Homo sapiens: one gene and its partners. The protein of the gene in region 1 interacts with the protein of each later gene in a pairwise test. Each region holds a gene or a part of one and is shown in the gene's direction. Other genes may lie near its edges.

Region 1 (5,289 bases):
GTTCCAGGTGGACATGAGTTTTGGGGGGAACCCTGTTCAACTCATTATAGCCTGCCCGGAGTGGATGGGATGGCACTGCCCAGAAAATCGTTCCCCCGACCCTGCTCCACTGACAATCAAGCATGCAGGCAGTAGGCCCTGTAGATTGGGACCCACAGTACAGGAGACCTCAATTCTATTCCGACTCAGTCTCTGACCTGCACTATAGCCTGGGAAAGTGCCTTGACTTCTCTAGGCCTCAGTTTCCCAATCTGTACACAAATGGAATTGGTGGCACCATAGCTATGGCCTTTCAGTTCTTTCCTTTTGACACTATAGGGGTTTACAGAGACACCTCGGGACCCTCTGTGTTGGATAAAAGGGAGGTGGGGGGCCGGACATGGTGGCTCACACCTGTAATCCCAACAGTTTGAGAGGCTGAGGTGGGAGGATCACTTGAGCCCAAGGATTTGAGACCAGCCAACATAGTGAGACCCCATCTCTACAAAAAAATAGAAAAAATTAGCCAGGTGTGGGAAAATGCGTCAAGTAGTCCCAGCTACTCAGGAGGCTGAGGTGGGAGGATCACTTGAGCCCAGGAGGTTGATGCTACAGTGAGCCATGATCATGCCACTGTACTGCAGCCTGGGCAATCCTGTCTCAAAAATAAATAACTAAAATTGTTGTGGGGAGCACTGAGGGAACCTGGGCCCTCGCTCTTCCGATCCACAGCGCTTTCTCATCTGTTTGTATGGGGTGTCTGCAGAGCTGCTGCGTGTATTTGTGCTGGTTGTTCTATACCCAACTTCAGGGGGCACTAGTCACGTCCTAGTCTATAGGAATGGATTGCCCTGGACCTCTGCATGCACAGCCTGTGCAGCTAAACATACAGCCCTGTTGATCTGTGGGAGGTGCAAACTGCTGCTAATAACTGAAACCGCCTGGATTAGCTGGTTCCCTGGGGTCCTCCCAGCATGGATGTTTTGTTGCTCAGAGGCAGGTGGCGTTTTCCTTTCACCACTAGACAGCCTGGCCCTGGGATTCCCCCTCCTGCCACAAGCAGCTTCAGCCTGCACATCATCCTCCCACTGAGGCTTCTTGGCCAGGCTGCCAGCTGCGCCACCCTCCCAGGGATACTGTGTTTCACTGCATCCTGGCCAGCATGTAACTATGAGGCCCAGGGGCAAGGTGGCCCCTGTGCTCAGAGCTGGCTCTCTGCCATGCAGGTGATGATCTGGAACCTGGATACAAAGGAGTCTGTCATCACAAGCCCCATGAGTACGATTAGCTGTCACCAAGATGTGATCCTCTCCATGTCCTTCAACACCAACGGCAGCCTGTTGGCCACCACCTGCAAAGACCGCAAGATTCGGGTTATTGACCCCCGAGCAGGGACCGTCCTCCAGGTCAGTTCTGGGCCAGGGGCTGGCTCAGGCTCAGAGGAGCAAGGAGCAGAGTGGGGACAGAGAGAGGCTTCAGAGAACAGGACAGTGATGCTGTCAGCGTCTGGGCTGCGCCTTCACAGGCAGCATCCCTGTCTGTCCTCTCGGGATTGCTGGAAGGTGGGATATGTCCTTTCCATTTTGCAGATGAGAAAACTGAGGCCCGTGAGAGATGAAATGACTCACCCCCATGGAGAGCTGGGATCTGAACCTGGTCTGACTCCAAAGCTTGTTGGCGTGCCTCAGCTCTGGCCAGGGGGTCAGGAGAGCCGACGATACCACTGTTTAGCCACTGTGCAGCCTTGGGCAAGCGCTTCCTGCTCTGAGCCTCTGTTTTCTCATTTGCAACAATGGGCTGTTAGTCCTTCCTCTCCAAGGATTAGATAAGACAGGCCAGGTGACAGTGCCCGCCCCTGTAGGGATGCCCAATACTCTTTCAGCAAGAACAGGGCGCTGGGCAGAAGTTTGTTTCTGTTCTTGCTCAGAAAAATAACTCTTAACAAAGATAGTGGGGAGAGACTCCATGTGGATGAGAGGGATCCAGGTGGTGCCCCTGGGAAGAATCTCCAGGCAGAGCTGGGGTGAGAAAGGGAGGCCTCCCAGGTGGAGCGGTGGCATAAGCAAAGCAGGGAGGCCAGAAACCCCAGCTGCCCCCGATCCTCTACTGTCTCTCCAATACCGACCGCACGTGTCCCTCCAGGAGGCCAGCTACAAAGGGCACCGGGCCAGCAAAGTGCTGTTTCTGGGGAACCTGAAGAAGCTGATGTCCACAGGCACATCCCGATGGAACAACCGGCAGGTGGCCTTGTGGGACCAGGTGAGGGCTGCACCCCACCCCTCACCATCACCCCTCAGCTGAGAGCCAGTGTCATTCATTCATGCATGCATTCATTTAGACACCCATTTATGACACACACATTTAGCGTAGACTGCCAGGTGCTGGGGATCCGGGGATGAATAGCAGGGAGATGCTGACAGCCCCGGGCGAGCCCAGACCCTGTGTATCTTGCCACCCAAGGAGGGAGATGGGTCAGGACCCAGGGGAGTCCGTTGGCTAGAGGAGGGGAGGTAGCTGAGTCTGGGACCAGGACTAGGAGGAAGGGAGAAGGAGAGGGCCATCTGGGCTGAGGGTGCACCTGGAGCAAATGAGGTACTAACGGGTATGGGGAGAAGGAGCTTTCATTGGGACAGCTGAGGGTGGAGCAGGGTAGGGTGAGGGCCAAGCTGGCGGTAGTATTTTGAGGGAGCATTTGACAGAGTTTCAAAGACTGGACAAATCACATTTTCTCTCTGAGTCTCCTTCTTCATCTATTAAAATAAATTTTAAAAAACAGGTAGGGGAAGATTGGAATGAGATCGGGTGTGTCAAAAGTGATTTGTTATGGCCAGGTATGGTGGTACACGCGTGTAATCCCAGCACTTCAGAAGGCCATGGCGGGAGGATCACTTGAGGCCACGAATTCGAGACCAGCCTGAGCTACACAGCAGGACCCCCATCTCTGCAAAAAATCAGCGGGGTGCAGTGGTGCATATCTATAATCCCAGCTATTTGGGAGACTGAGGCGAGAGGATCGCTTGAGCCCAAGAGTTTGAGACTGCAGTGAGCTATGATCGCACCACTGCACTCCAGCCTGGGTGACAGTTAGACCTTGTCTCAAAAAAAAAAAAAAAGTGATTTGTTAAGGGCAGAAAGCTGACAAAATAGGTGGCAGCAGCATTTTAGTGCCTTTAAGATGTCATCTCCACTAGAGAGTAGCCCACACATTGGAACTCAAGAACCAGGGACATCTTCCCCCCGCACACACATATAAAAAAATCACACTTTTTCTCTGACACACACACTCTCGCCCAGAGCACCATGGCAGCAATTCTTATCTCCGGGAGCACCACTGAGGGCCCCCAGGAGTGACCCAGGCCTTCCCTGCCTCCCCTTCCCCTGCAGGATAACCTCTCTGTGCCTCTGATGGAGGAGGACCTGGACGGCTCCTCGGGCGTGCTGTTTCCCTTCTATGACGCGGACACCAGCATGCTCTACGTGGTGGGGAAGGTCGGCTTGGCACGGGAGGGAGGTGACCTCCTGGACCCCTGAGACAGCGGCAGACAGCAGCCTGGGGCCATTGGGAACACAGGGCAGGGATGGGCAGGCCTCGCTGGCCACTCTTTCCCTGTGAGAAGGAACCCCTCCCACCCTCCTGGCTCCCTAGGAACACCTGGAGCCAGGGCTCTGGCTGGACACCTTGACCTTGTCTCTTCCCAACTCCAGGCCCAGATGTGGGGGGACCATTGGTGTTTCTCAGCAGGGGCACCTGCTAAACTGGGGGCAGAACAGGTCTCCACTGGGTAGGACTATCCCATGTCTGGCAGCCCTGGCCCCTGCCCACCAGTGCCAAGAACAGCATCTCTCCCCCTCCATCCAAGTCATTATGACAACCAGAAATGTTCCCCATGGTAAGACCTTCTGGATGACCTCTGAGGCCACCCCAGTTCTGACTTTTGCTGCTGCTCTCAGATAGGAGCGGGATTTGGACTTGTCTTCCCAGAGCTTCTGTCTTAGAGGAAAAAGGGTGGGCTTTGGGTCATGGTGGGGGAGGATTGAATATTAAAATAAGGGCCCAGGCCCAGCACAGTGGCTCATGCCTATAATTCCAGCACTTTGGGAGGCCAAGGTGGGAGAATCACTTGAGCCCAGGAGTTCAAGGCCAGCCTGGGCAGCATAGTGAGACCCCATGTCTACGAAAATGAAAAAATAAAAAATTAGCCAGGCGTGGTGGCACACACCTGTGGTCCCACCTACTCGGGAGGCTGAGGCGGGAAGATGGCTTGAGACCAGGAGGTTGCAATGAGCTGTGATTGCACTACTGCTCTCCAGCCTGGGCAATAAAGTGAGACCCTGTCTCAAAAAAATAAGATAAAATCTAAAATAAAATGAATATCCCCTCATCACCCTCCTGCCTTGATGACAGGGCCCCCAGTTTCCTGGTGTTCCCTTGAGTGAGATGGGTTTGCCGATCATCAAAAAAAGCCAGGTCTTTGCTGCATGGCTGGGTTGCTGATGAGCTGATGAGCTCCAGCTCTGAATCTCACCCTCCTCTTCCTTCTCCTCCTCCTCAGGGAGATGGCAACATCCGCTACTACGAGGTGAGCGCCGACAAGCCTCACCTGAGCTACCTGACTGAGTACCGCTCCTATAACCCACAGAAGGGGATCGGTAAGTGAGGGACACTGAAGTTCATGCCTGTAATCCCAGCACTTCGGGAGGCCGAGGTGGGAGAATCAGGGTCAGGGCTTCAGTGCGGGGTCTGGGGAGACAGGGATGAGTCAGATGGGAGGAGAGACAGCATAGCAACACTCTGACTTGGTGGGGGCTGTACTTGACGTGTGCAACAGCACAAAGGAGGAAGTCAGGGAAGGCTTCTCAGAGGAGGCAACATTGGAGGAACTGAAAGAGGAAGCAGAGCCCAGCAGGGGAGAGAGGGATGTGTTCTAGGTCAAGGTTAAGCAGTTACCACAAGAGCAGAGATGGAAAGGGCTGACCTAGAAGAGCCTCTAGGAAGCAGTCCTCAGTTCCTTTCTAAGTGTGCTTGAGGATTAAAAACACAGCTATATTTCTGTAATCTACAAGAAACCCACTTTAAACATAAAGACATGGCTAGATTAAAAGTAAGGGACTGGAGAAAGATGCACCCTGCTAACCCTACTCAAAAGGAATCTGGAGCGGTTTGATTAAGAGCATTTGGGTCACAGGAGCTGTGGGGATGGAGATGGGGAACCTTAAGCAGAGCAAACTGCCTATAAAAGTTCAGCTAATCCAGCACTTTGGGAGGCCAAAGCTGGAGGATCACTTGAGCCTAGGAATTCGAGCCTAGCC
Region 2 (4,566 bases), on another chromosome or scaffold:
TTTTAGGAGCTCTGTGCTGGGAACCATGAATAAAGACCAATATTTCTTATTATGCCACACTAACATATAAAGCTCTTCTGGTAACAGTTGGGATTTTTGATTCTCCAGATGGCTTTGTATCTTAAAGGGTGCAAGATTTAGCCACTACCCAGAGATTTCTTCTCTGACAAAAGCTTAAATAAGTGTCTTACTTCATGAAGGCAGCAATGGAAACTGAGGTCAGAAGTTATAATATTAATTATAACATAGTAAGCCAATACTCTTCCAATCACAAAATCTCAGTTAATGTATGGCTGAGTTATTCATAACAGTGTATCTTGGCTGGCTGCCATCACAATGGGCCAGAATGGTTTTGTGCAGGGCAGTGTGTTCAACGTCAGGACCCTGTGGCATAAAGTCCAGTACCCTACCTGTCTCCCAGATGGTCACACAAGTCCAATTAGGGAGTCCAGGAGCCAGCAGAGGCTATAGTGCTGCAGGAGAGGAGTGGGGAGACGGTCCTGGGTGGCGGGTGACTTGGATACAGGCAGGAAGGCCGAGGTTTTTAGGGGTAGTGGGGGATGAGATGGAGGGGAGGGTGGGTGCCAGATGTGGGGGAGGCCTAGACCCCATGTACTGATGCTGAGGGTTGGGGGTGTAGGGCCAACTGAGGACTCTGAGGTTAAGGGGGAGAAAGAGCATCCCTATTCCCTGCTGGCCTTGTTGCCTGTCAAACAGAACTCATCAAAACAAAGAAGTTTAAGAATGACATTGTGGAGAAAGAAGAATGACATGATAACTTGAACCTGGGTTTTTTGGAAGCCCCCGAATGGCAGGAGCTGGAAAAAATGAGCACTTGACTGTTGGGATGCTTGTGGAGAAGAGAGCATGGTGTTAGACAGACTCCAATTTTCATTTCAGTCTTGCTACCCACCAGCTGTGGGACCTTGGGGAATGCATGCAGTCTCTCTGCTTTTCAGGTTCTGCATCTGTAAAACCATATTTCAGCGATTACACATACCAAATGCTGTGGCAAGTGCACGGAACCCTGCCCAGGGTCTGACACCGAGTGTTTCCCCATAAGTGTGGGCTCCTTCTCTCCTGTGTTTGGCTGACCCAGCAGTTTAGGGAGCCAACTTGGCAAGACCATGGGCCAGCATGGCAAACCAGTGACCAACCAGCATTTGAGGGGGGAGGAGCATCTTGGAGAGCTTCTCATTTTAAATTGTCTTCAATCCCAAGTGCCAGACAAACTGCTCTACCCAAGGAGCACCTGCTCCACACCAGCCAACTGACCCACAACCAGCCAATCAAACAGCCAACCAATCAACCAACCAGCCAACTGACTAGCCAACCAAGCAACCAATCAACCAACCAATTAACCAACCAACTGTCTAACCAACCAACCAATTAGCCAACCAGCCAACCAACCAACCAACCAACCAACCAGCCAACCAGCCAACCAAACAGCTAACCAATCAACAAACCAGTCAACTGACTAGCCAACCAACCAAACAACCAACGAACCAGCCAACCAAACAGCCAACCAATCAACCAACCAGCCAACTGACTAGCCAACCACCCAGCCAACCAGTTAACCAACCAACCAGCCAGCCAACCAACCAACCAACCAATCGGTTAGCCAACTAACCAACCAGCCAACCAGCCAACCAACCAACCAACCAGTTAACCAACAAATCAACCAACCAACCAACCAACCAACCAACTGGGAGTTACTCCTGAGAAGAAATATAGTTGGAAAAAACCTCAGTTGACAAGTTCAAGAATGATCAGAAAGTATAGGATTGGGGTAGAAAGACTTTAAAAAAAAAATTAAGTGCAAATTTAAAGCCACAATAATAAAGTTTACAAATGTCACTCACCTCAAAAAAGGAAACTTGACTTATAGCTGTTAGAGATGTGCCTCAGCAGGTGACTTTTCTCTGAATTACCTTCTCTATTTGTGCAGGGTCCCTGTGGTGGCATTACAAAATGCTGGGCCGAGCCTCTTAACAGGTTTTTTAAGTAGATTGGGACTTTAAAAAATTTTGCTCACCGTCCTCTTGGTGCAAAATTTAGTGTCTTTTGCAACTTAACTGTTCTCTTTTATTTTTGAAATTTTTCTGCAAAATATGTAATATATTTTTCTCACCATGACACCCTGGAGATCCTCTGACATGGCCAAGAGAGGAGGGATGTAATAATTTTGTCATGAAGTTTTGTTGGGAAGAAACCAAATGATGTACCTGTTTCAGCTGAGGTCTCTATGCCCCAGGGCTGTGCTGGAACCCCCTCATAGTAGCTCACAAAAACCCATTCTGTGCATCTCTTCCCAGCTCCATGTGTAGCTTGAAATTGGCCGCGGTGTGAGTATTTACACCACAGAACCTGGCAAATGTTACAAATCCAGGCACATCACTGCCCCTTAAGACCCAGACAAATCCCTCTAGGTATTTGCACATCCTCATGGTTAATTTAGGTTCAGGGACCTGAAGTATTTTTTACTGAATTATCTCAATTTGGGGATCTTCATCTCTCTTGTTCACATTGTTCCTGTCACACATCACATCATGGGACCTAGTCCTCTTCCTTAATTGTTAGCAGTTGCCACCTTCCCTCTCTCCATGAATTTTTGGTAAGCCTGCTCTTTTCTGAATGACTTACCCACTTTTTGAAATTGTGCCATGCAGCTTTTCGTGCTGCCTTCCCTGTCCTCAGCTGCTGCTCAGGTGCCAACCTTCCATCCTCAGGCTGGTGCTCGCGCCCTGGGGACATGCACTGTCCTTTGTACAGCTCTTCGTTCATCTCACAAAGTGCCCAGGACATTGTAGGTGCTGAGTAAATAATGGGATGATTGAGGAAATAAATATGTAGAAGTTCCTTCTGCAGATAAATTTTGGGGTTATTCACATAAACAAATATTACTTGAATAATTAGCATTTTCTTAGCCTATTGGGTATTCTTTATCTTCATGTGGAAGTGGGTCCAGTTTTTGTGTAAGCCAGAAGCTTATGTAAGTTTTGAGAACCTCTTTAAAAAAAAGAAAATATAAAGTTGGTATAAAAGTGAATTTTCATTTGCAATGATAAATCAAAATAAGTTAAAAATTTAAAAATACCACAAACATCACAGAATCTAAGTAGCCTGAGTTTTAATGTCTGACATACTTCTAGAATAGCTTTTCTCTACCTTTGTTAGCTAATACTCTTTGAATGCTTCTCCATATGGCAACCATTTTGTAATGTTTTCTATAGAGAGAATAGAAATATAATTCCTTCTTTTCTCTTTGATCAACAAATTGATCAACATTTGCTTTTTATTATTCATAGTCTCAAAACATATCATTTAGCTTAATGACTTGGTGTAATATGCACGTTTTTAAGAGCAGTCACCTTTGGGAGACCTCTATTAAGTTTCTTTCCTAAGTGAGCTGTAAGATTTGAGGACGTTTTGAGTTTTCTAGTGCAGGGATTCATACTGTGGTTGACAAAAGTAGTTTGCAGTTGTCCACATCATGGAGTGGTATTATGAATTTTATGATATCCTTGCCAATTTCAGTACTGCCTACCAAGCCTATAAGGACTTAGCAGAAGCCGTATGGAGGTGAGGAGGTGAGGGAAGAGTTCAAACAGAGGCATGGCACCAGCGGATGGAGCTGGTGTGCAGCTGGGGTTAGAGTGGCATGTTGGAGTCAGATGATTGGGTGGGAGATAGACTGAAATGCTGCCAGGTGGCTGAGGATAGATGGTCAAGCCCTGGAGTTGTTGCTGGATCTCTAAACATTTGCAAGGTAAATGAAGTGTGGTGTTAGGATCACTGGCAATGGGTCAGACAACCTTGGTTTGTCTCCCTCCTCGTTGCATCTTCGTGGTGCCTCTGACTAACCTGTGAAATGTGCTTGTCAGTACATGCAGGTGGCTGTGGCCCACATCCATACACCTCACTCTGTACCCCGTGAACTCCTGACTCAGCCCTCTCTTAGCCCACTGTCCACCGTGGCTCAGCACCTATGCCATCTGGCACAAAAGGAAGGGGTGGAGGGATGTCAGAGTGGAAACAGATAGCAGCCTTGGTCGGTGCTGTTAAAAATCTCTCTTCTGCAGGATTTCCTGAGCAGAAGGGGCCTGTGTGTGCATGGGCTTCATTTGCTTCACAACACATCTGCCTTTGCCATGGTTAACAATTTGAAGACATGGTACAGGGCATCGATCCCTTCTTCTCACCTGGGCTTGCCTTTGTGTTGTTCCTTTCAGGAGAGTGGGCAAATGACCTGCGGCACGGCCATGGCGTATACTACTACATCAATAATGACACCTACACTGGAGAGTGGTTTGCTCATCAAAGGTTCGGTTTCTATCTTGGGTCTTAACGGGATTTGCTTATGTAATGAGAACATGATGTCTGCAGATTGTTTACACTTACTGAGGAACAGAATCATAACAAAAGCCCAGTTACCAACTCTGCCAGGCAGGTCCAATCTTTCTATGGCTTTGAGGCAAGGATGCCTTTCTGTGCAAGTGTAGACTCAAGTATCTGACATCTGCACCTCAGTTGGGGCAGAGCACGTGAGTCTTTCACCCAAGAGTC
Region 3 (4,566 bases), on another chromosome or scaffold:
GAATGACTAAAAATGTAATTCCCTACTGTCAACTTGCTATCTGAGCACCTGGGTTGATGTAGCTATATCTGTTATTTACGCGGAGTGATTACTGTGTCTACTGTTGGAGTGTTCTTAGAAATGATAGCAAAGCTAAAAATAAAGTGACCACTTAAAGCAAAACCGCATCTCACCATGATGATGATAAAACATTATAATCCGTGTTCCTTGTTGAATAAAAATATCTTTTTATAATACAGCAAACCACATTTCAATCATACTGCTTTGCCATCAATAATAAAAAGGTCAGCCACACGTTTAATATCAACTTTAACCCTAGGCTATTTCCTGTTACATGAAAAATTTCAAGTGAAACAAGATCAGAGGAAAGGCAATACTTCTCTTTATTGTAAGAGGTTCTACAGAAAAGAGATATTATGGCAAAGAAGATAATTATTCATTAATGAATTTATTTGCAGAATTAATCTAAGGTACAATGTATTTGTAAATGCCCAAATTATTCTGCATAGGATCAAACAGTACTATTAAGAAGATTGCATACTTAAAAAAAAATAAAACATGGAGATCCAAATAAAACATAGATACTTAGAAATTACTACATCTGGCCGGGCGTGGTGGCTCACGCCTGTAATCCCAGCACTTTGGGAGGCCGAGGTGGGCAGATCACGAGGTCAGGAGATCAAGACCATCCTGGCTAACACAGTGAAACCCTGTCTCTACTAAAAATACAAAAAAATTAGCCGGGCTTGGTGATGGGCACCTGTAGTCCCAGTTACTGAGGAGGCTGAAGCAGGGGAATGGCATGAACTCGGGAGGCAGAGCTTGCAGTGAGCCCAGATCGCGCCACTGCACTCCAGCCTGGGCGACAGAGCGAGACTCCGTCTCAAAAAAAAAAAAGAAAAAGAAGTTACTACATCCATAAAGCAATATTGTCCCACATGGCTCTGTTAATTCTGGGATCTCCTAGAAACCAATATCCCCAGAAAGATCTCAGTGATATCAGGAGAATATCATAAAATATTCCCAGTTTCCTCAAATTACATGCGGGTTGCTTAAGAAAATGTTAAGAGAATCTCCAAATCTGGCTGGCTTGAGCCATAAAGTGGGTGGTAAGTCAAACACTGCCAGTATCTGCTCTCCTCTCTGCAAGAAAATTAGACACTACTGGAAGCGACATTAAATAGCAGCAACCTGGACGTAAAAATAGAGCACCGCTGAAATAATAGCTTGCAGTTTTGCAACACCCTGCTCTTTTCTCATGAGCTGACTTCTAGTGGATTGAAAGAGTTAACTTTCAAATTTGCCTGAATCACTGAGGGCTAAGAATAAAAAAAATGTTTTAAGTTGAGTAAAAACTCAGATATACCTAAAAATGGGTTAACAATAAAATAATATTTTTCAGCTGGGTACCTATTTCTTCATTTTTCTTCTAAAGACTAAACCTGATGGAACGTTGGATGTGTATTTTGGAAAAAGTGAAACACTACTTATTCCCCTTACTTGGCTCATTATAGATGACTTATTCTTTAATTTGGTAAAGTTTTTGATGCTTTCCAGACAGCCTAAAGACATGGAAGCTACTTCATATATAATATTTTAATCTCCATTAAGCAATTTGCCAATAAAACTTTTAACAGGGATTCATGTTTTCCACTAACATGTAATGAGGTATAACAAGTACATTCCAGCATTAAACAAAGTATGTAAAAGTAGAGGAATAATGATTTTGTGTGGGATTAAGACACATATTGCTACTAAAGAAAGGGAATCTGCATGAAATCATATGGAGGTAAATTCTTGCATCATGTTATTAAATGTTTATCCACCCACAGTCTAATTCTAGTCTTGTCTAATTTAGATTAGATAACATGAATATTTTAAAGGAAAAACACTAATTGTTTTTTACTGAAAGTTGGCTGTCTGGACTAGACTCATAGAAATGCTTTTTAGAAATGTGCTCTTACGGTTTTTGCTATTTGTTTGTGTATTTACATAAAGGAATTAAGAAACATAATATCTTCCCTGGGCTTTCTGGCTTCTAAGCATATGTCAAGTCAGTTTGGTCGTAAAGAGCATTCCTCTTCATTTATCACTGAGCTGTGTGCCAGTGGGAAGGCGCCCAAATGTACACAATTTAGTTTGCTAGGTAATTTGTTCTTTGACATTATCATTAAGAAAATGGGTTTCATTTTGGCTTCCACAAATGCTCTTTGTAATGAAGATTTACTTTGACATGAGTTGAAGAACTATATTAAGTTGTGCTCCTGTGATCATGTCTGTTTCCAGGTTGTTGATCGTCTTTTCTAGTTGCCTAATTCAATTCAGTAAGTGTTTTGGGGGCACATACGATGTACAAGTGTGAGTCCCCAAGAGTAGGCTAAGATACAGTAAGATTTCATATCATTACCAGATATTCAGGTTTCCAACATATGCATCTTACTAAGGTGACCCTCACCACGTAGCAACAAAATGTGCCAAATGTAGAGGTGTCTTCTTCTTCGTTCATATGCTGAGAGAGCATTTTAGAAACTGTTAAGTTGCGTTTAATTAACATGAGATTATTTCCCTTACATCTTCTCTTCCTTCCCACAGTGACTAAGCACATGCTATGCGATAGCTGTTTTATGTAAGTGTGTGTGTATATTTATATACATACATATGCACACATATATATTTGGGTGCATGTGTCTCTCTGTGTGTATATATATGTGTATATATATATATATATATATATATATACACACACACACACATGTGTGTGTGTGTGTGTGTGTGTCCATGTGTGTGTATGTGTATAAAGCAGTAGGTGGAGAACACGACCTAGAAATTTAACATGGGATGGCTAATCAGGATGAAAAACTCTAAGGGAAACCAGAAGTAATTCTAGCTATCTAAGGAAGAAGTAAGAAAAGAAAAGTAAAATGGCAGTACTGTTATGTCTTTATTTTCCCTTCCATTAAATATTCAGGATATTTAATAGAATATCCTAGAGTCAATCATGTGTTCATTTATTTATATCAATATATATGTGTACACACACACACACTCTCACAACCCAGAAGTCAATAGCGTGTTCATTTATATATATGTGTGTGTTTACATATACATATTTATGTGTGCATGTATTTGTATACATATGTGTATATATGTGTGTGTATACACACATATATATATCACATGTATTCTCAAAGGACTGCTTTATGTATACACACACATATATGTATCACATGTATTCTCAAAGGACTGCTTTATATATACACACACACATATATGTATCACATGTATTCTCAAAGGACAAAATAAGATACCTGCATTTGATGGGATGAATACAAAAGTTGCCATCTTTCCAAGTACTGTGAGTGAGGGATTCAGGAAAAGTGGGAATTTGAGTGAGAATTCCCCATTTATGTGCATGTACTAATGTAATGCTATTTATATGTTATTTTATGTATCTTAAACTTCTATTCAGATAACATTTTAGGAAAACTATGGCTTAGACAATTCCTAAGAATACCTGTTCCAAATTTCAGGAATTCCCCAGGAGAGTTAGGGAAGGAAAGGAAACTGAAAGAACTGACCTAAGAATCTCATAGAAATTGTGCTGACATTGGTGACATAAGATAAATATCCAAACTGGCACCTTTTCTTTGCTACGTACATGAGACTGGTGTTTGTGTAATTGCGAGGGGATGCTGTGGTGAGGGGGAATGGGGCAAAAAGAATGGTTTGGCCCCACCAGACATATTGCAGAAGAACTGCAGTCGTGTTTATGCATCAGCTTAACCTTAAAATTACTGCTGTAGAACATTTTAAAATTTAAATTATTTTTAGCATGAATTCTGAAATCCAGAGATAAGACTTTCTTAGCAAATGGCACACAATATCATAATACTTTAAATTATTTTTAGCTATGTCTTCTGATATTTAACTCTGTATTTCTAAACAATATGATTGTACTATGATTTTTTTTTCTATTTTAAACATTATCTGTTAACTTCCTGCTACAGAAAGTGACTATCTCCCTTAAATTATTTTCCCTGCTCTCCCTAATCTCACTCCTCACAGAATCCTATGCACTGAAAATCATTGCTTCATATGTTTTGGTTAATTTAATGTTTACTATTTGCATTATTTTGACTACATGAAAAAAATTAGCCACAGCTTATGGAGTATACTATAATTATATTTTCCTTCTTGTAAAACTATTTTTCCTGTGGTTGATAATTGATATCCCTAGTGTTCTCTATAACTATTAATAATTCTTCCATCCAAATTGCTTGACTTTATTATAAAATTCCTCTCAATATGTCATATATAATTTATTATTTCCCTTTTTTTAGAGACATCTCCCAGAGACAACTTTAGGAGTTATGTGAAATGATTGACCACTGGACTTGCTACACAACTTTTATCCTGAAAATTCTATACCTTCCTCACTTGTGCTGAATTCTTGGCTTCCTTTTGCCATGTCTTTCCCACTGTGTTTATTTTTTAATTTGGGGTTAGCTATCTCTCCAGTAGCTTTTGAGAAGAGGTTAAAAAAAAAGTAAGACTTTTCATATAATT
Region 4 (4,269 bases), on another chromosome or scaffold:
GCTCCTTTTATTAGGTGGGTAATTATATATGAATCCCTGAATAAAATATTTTGAGCAAAATGGCACTGTAACAGAAGTAATAATTCAGTTTATTTTTTTACAGTTTTATGTCGGGAAGGAAATCTGATGTCAAAGAGAGGGCTGTTCAAATGGTTCATTAGAAAGTCCGGTCCATTTGCGAATTTGTTCCTTCAACAAGAGTGCTCATTCAAGTTACTCAGATTTTCTGGAAGTCTTTTCTGAAGAGCTATGTGATGTTGTTCTATGGGACAGACTACTCTTATTTAACATCTGGGCACTTAGGTAGACAACCTTCTACTGACCTGGAATAAAGTGTTTCCTAACATAATATTGAATTATTCAGAAATAATCCATTACTTCAAAAAAGAAAATATTCATTGGGCTAGCCCAACCTTCTCTAGGCCCTAAGAATTATTACCTCCCCTTTCTAATTCTAGCAAACATGGAACATTCTCCTTAGGCACTTGACACCCACGAGGGTAATCCTGAGTGCTCAGTTTGGAATAGGTTGCAAATCTCAGATTTTAGGGATTGAGTCACACCTTCAATCTATAGAATGAAGTTGACCAATTAAAAAAAAAAAAAAAACCTATCATTTTCACAAATTTCTAGATCCTTCTAGTCAAAAATAATTATTTAGGAAATAAAATTTTTAAAAATCCATTTAAATACATGTTATTTGTCTTCAGTGGAAGTTATATTTCTGCTGCATGCTTTTGAAACTTTCTTCATTAAATAGAATGGTTTGTCTTAGTAACTGGCAATGCCAGTATTAGCACCATGCATTTAATCTATAATACAATCAATTTAAACATCCTCAAAAAACTCTAGTATCATTTACCTGGTAGTATTAATATACAATGATGTCACCACAACTTTTGTATAACTCTGTTCCCTTTACCCTCAAATGATTCATATATGTATATAATTGCCTGCCCAAGTTTTCAGGTAACTTATTAATTTCCCAGTCTCCTGATCTCTTGACAAGAAGAAACCTGTGAATACTGCAAACTAGCCTCTGACTTCCTCCTACTGAGTCTAGTTCATGGTATCCAGGACTCTTTATGCTCATAACTCTCTCTGATTCCCATTGGGTGATACCTGACAGCCAACCAGCCGCTCTGCCACCAGAACTCATTTCTCCCTGAAAAAGAAGAAAATCATATTTGGCAGAGCATTCTCTGGTCTGCCCTGTAATGTGCTTAAATGTCAGGCAACATCCTCTTTTTTTTAAAAAAAATGGTATTTTTCTTTAAATTTCACCCTAATAAGAAAGCTATTTTCTCTCCTCTGCAGAAATTTCTGCATTTGTGAAACTTATAAAAATTTAGATAGTTCAAATGTATAAAGAATATTTGGATGATGCTCTAGCCAAAAGTTAAATATTTCGTAGTGAATCATAGCCAATAAGAAACCAGTCATACTTGCCTCTTTGAATAACAGAGATATAAGCTTCTAGAATATTTAAATAATGAAGTTTTACATTTGGGTATTATAAAATGCATACTCAATTGAATGAGCTGAAAAAAATACCAAGCCAGTGATATAAGTGGAGATTTATTAAGGATTCCTGTTGAGTATATTCTTAGTTTCCTCAAAATAGGGATTATTCAAAATTAGGTGTATGTTCAATCTCCTGCTTTGGTTCCAGCTACACAAGGAGAGCCATCCTGTGCTAGTGTGATGTTTCAGACAACATTCTGAAACTAAAATGTTTGGCACTTATTGGCTTTTCCAATAAAGAATCTCTTAAGTACAGGTATTTCTGGAAGCTGTTGGTGTCTGTGCTTGAAGATGATTGCTGATACTTATCCACCCTTTGGGTACTTCTGTTGACTTTGTTTAAATAATCATCTTATGGTTGTCCCCAAATGTAATATGGTATCTCAGATATAGCAGCTGGACTGTAATTACAACAAAAGGTTACCTCTAAAGATAACATCTTACCATTTTAGATAAAATTGTGTCCCAGAATTCTTATGGTTTCGGAATGTACATTTCTAGTCAATGAAAGAAAGAAAAATGGAAAAATTGTCTAGTTTCAGGCATGTTTAAAGAAAACAAAGTCATCTGAACTTTAAAATAGATGCAGAGCAGGGTTACTTTCCCTTTCACTCAGTTCCCTTCATGCAACCACAGGCAGTCCTGCAGGCCAGAGGTTACTATCCTAACCTGCTCATAACCATATACTATACAGAGCCCACAACTTTCTGGAGATGCAGAAGCAGCCATACACTCAAGTCTCTGTTTTTGTAAATCACATTCAAAGCAACATTTTACTCATAATTTGCATTTCTCTGGTGACTTTCAGAAATCACTTTAGTATTGTACAGAAAAGCTTTTTATTTGAGTCTAGTGTTTAAAATTAAATTGGATACTTGGGAAAATCATAGATAGGTGTTTTGTATGATATTCCATTCCAATGCAAAATATATGTACCCATGCCTCAATGTATCTTGCTATCTAAATACCTGTTGCCAAAAAGTATTGATTTGGGAAAAAAAATGCCAATTTCCTGGTCAGTGAGGTTATGTAAAAGACAAAATACCACACCCATATCAGCAAATGAATATTACTACTCATCTGGACTCTTCGTTGCCACTATTGCATAACGTTCACGTGGCAGACTTCCAGTTGCACTCTCTGAAGGACTTTTTTCTCTTACTCTCAATAGAGAGCCTTTGTACATTGTCATCCTATGATTGTTGTTGGTAGAAGAGCAAGAGCAAAACTCTGCAAGATTTAATAAACACAGGGGCATGGGCCAAGGGATCTCACTGTGTGCTGAACATGTATTTTCAGATGCAAGAAAGGAATGATGGAGAGGAGGAGAAATGCTGTTTTTTATTATTGTAGGGTAAATCTGACAATTCTGAACTTTGTGAATTGTCAGCTTGTTTGGGGGAAGGGTGGGCGGGTATGGGGTGTACTTTTTATAAGTAATATTTAATTTATTATTTAGAGTGGCTTCTTTTTGGATAATTTATGATAAAAAGGGAGATCTGGTTGGGATCTAGATACGGCTGTTAAAGCTGCAGTGTTCCATACCTCAGAGGGACCACTTTGGAAATGAATTGTCCATTGCTGAGTATGAAGAGATGTCCAGTCCAGGCAAAGCCTTCACTGAAGTTCCATCATCGCCACTTCTCCCTTTTTAGGGTCATTCAAAGAAGATAACACCAAACCTAAATAATTCTGAAAGCATTTTGCAGATCAGTGCTACTCATTCAAAGGGCTTTGCAACTCAAACAGATTGTTAGTGTGCTAGTGATAAGTTTATTTGGTAGAAATGGGTATACTACAGCTTTAACTAGCCTTAGTGAGAAAAGAAATTTTTTGTTGTTACAAAACACCTTTTTTAACAAAAAGGTATTTTGAGCCTACAAAAAGTTTCTTTAAACTGTCAGATTCTAGCATTGTTAACCAAATTAGACTAGTGATTGCAATATTTAAGTGTAAATCTTGTTCTACAAGAAAGGAAACTTGCTTACAGTTTAAAACAATGACTGTTTCTACACATGATCTTGTATACTACTACACAAGGAAAAGGGGGTTTTGTAAACACTGTAGAACAGTCTCATATTCATTTTTTTATAGAAATGTTATTCCAATGGTGCATTTTTTGTTTAATAAATAAAGTTTTGATACAAAGTTCTTTTTTCATGTTATTTATAGTAAATGCTGTGCCACACACACAACCACAACCTTGCTTGTCTGTATCCTTAAGATTCATTCTCTTAGTCCATTGGTGTTGCTGTAAAGGAATACCTGAGCTGAGTAACTTAATAAAGAGAAGAGGTTTAATTAGCTCATGGTTCTGCGAGCTGTACAATAAGTGTGGTGCCAGCATCTGTTCCTGGTGAGGCCTCAGGCGGCTTTCACTTATGGTGGAAAGGAAAGGGAAATCCACATGTGCAGAGATCGCATAACAAGAGAGGAAGCAAGAGAGAGAAGCAGGGCCGGGCGCGGTGGCTCATGCCTGTAATCCCAGCACTTTGGGAGGCCGAGGCGGGCGGATCACGAGGTCAGGAGATCGAGACCATCCCGGCTAAAAACGGTGAAACCCCGTATCTACTAAAAATACAAAAAATTAGCCGGGCGTAGTGGCGGGCGCCTGTAGTCCCAGCTACTTGGGAGGCTGAGGCAGGAGAATGGCGTGAACCCGGGAGGCGGAGCTTGCAGTGAGCCGAGATCCCGCCACTGCACTCCAGCCTGGGCGACAGAGCGAGACTCCGTCTCAAAAAAAAA

What was found. The genes of interacting proteins can lie anywhere in the genome.
Region 2: the proteins of CORO2A (region 1) and RSPH1 interact in a two-hybrid assay, tested with the Homo sapiens proteins (one large-scale study listed by BioGRID and IntAct).
Region 3: the proteins of CORO2A (region 1) and DLC1 interact in a two-hybrid assay, tested with the Homo sapiens proteins (one large-scale study listed by BioGRID and IntAct).
Region 4: the proteins of CORO2A (region 1) and DCC interact in a two-hybrid assay, tested with the Homo sapiens proteins (one large-scale study listed by BioGRID and IntAct).

Annotation. Positions count from the first base shown.
Region 1 is NC_000009.12:98,129,134-98,134,422, reverse strand, and holds part of CORO2A (coronin-2A), read left to right. Parts: intron 1-1,205; coding exon 1,206-1,385; intron 1,386-2,121; coding exon 2,122-2,238; intron 2,239-3,363; coding exon 3,364-3,468; intron 3,469-4,532; coding exon 4,533-4,629; intron 4,630-5,289.
Region 2 is NC_000021.9:42,486,128-42,490,693, reverse strand, and holds part of RSPH1 (radial spoke head 1 homolog), read left to right. Parts: intron 1-4,232; coding exon 4,233-4,323; intron 4,324-4,566.
Region 3 is NC_000008.11:13,504,755-13,509,320, reverse strand, and holds part of DLC1 (rho GTPase-activating protein 7), read left to right. Parts: intron 1-4,566. UniProt on the Homo sapiens protein: Functions as a GTPase-activating protein for the small GTPases RHOA, RHOB, RHOC and CDC42, terminating their downstream signaling.
Region 4 is NC_000018.10:53,532,228-53,536,496, forward strand, and holds the end of DCC (netrin receptor DCC), read left to right. Parts: 3' UTR 1-3,672; downstream 3,673-4,269. UniProt on the Homo sapiens protein: Receptor for netrin required for axon guidance. Mediates axon attraction of neuronal growth cones in the developing nervous system upon ligand binding. Its association with UNC5 proteins may trigger signaling for axon repulsion.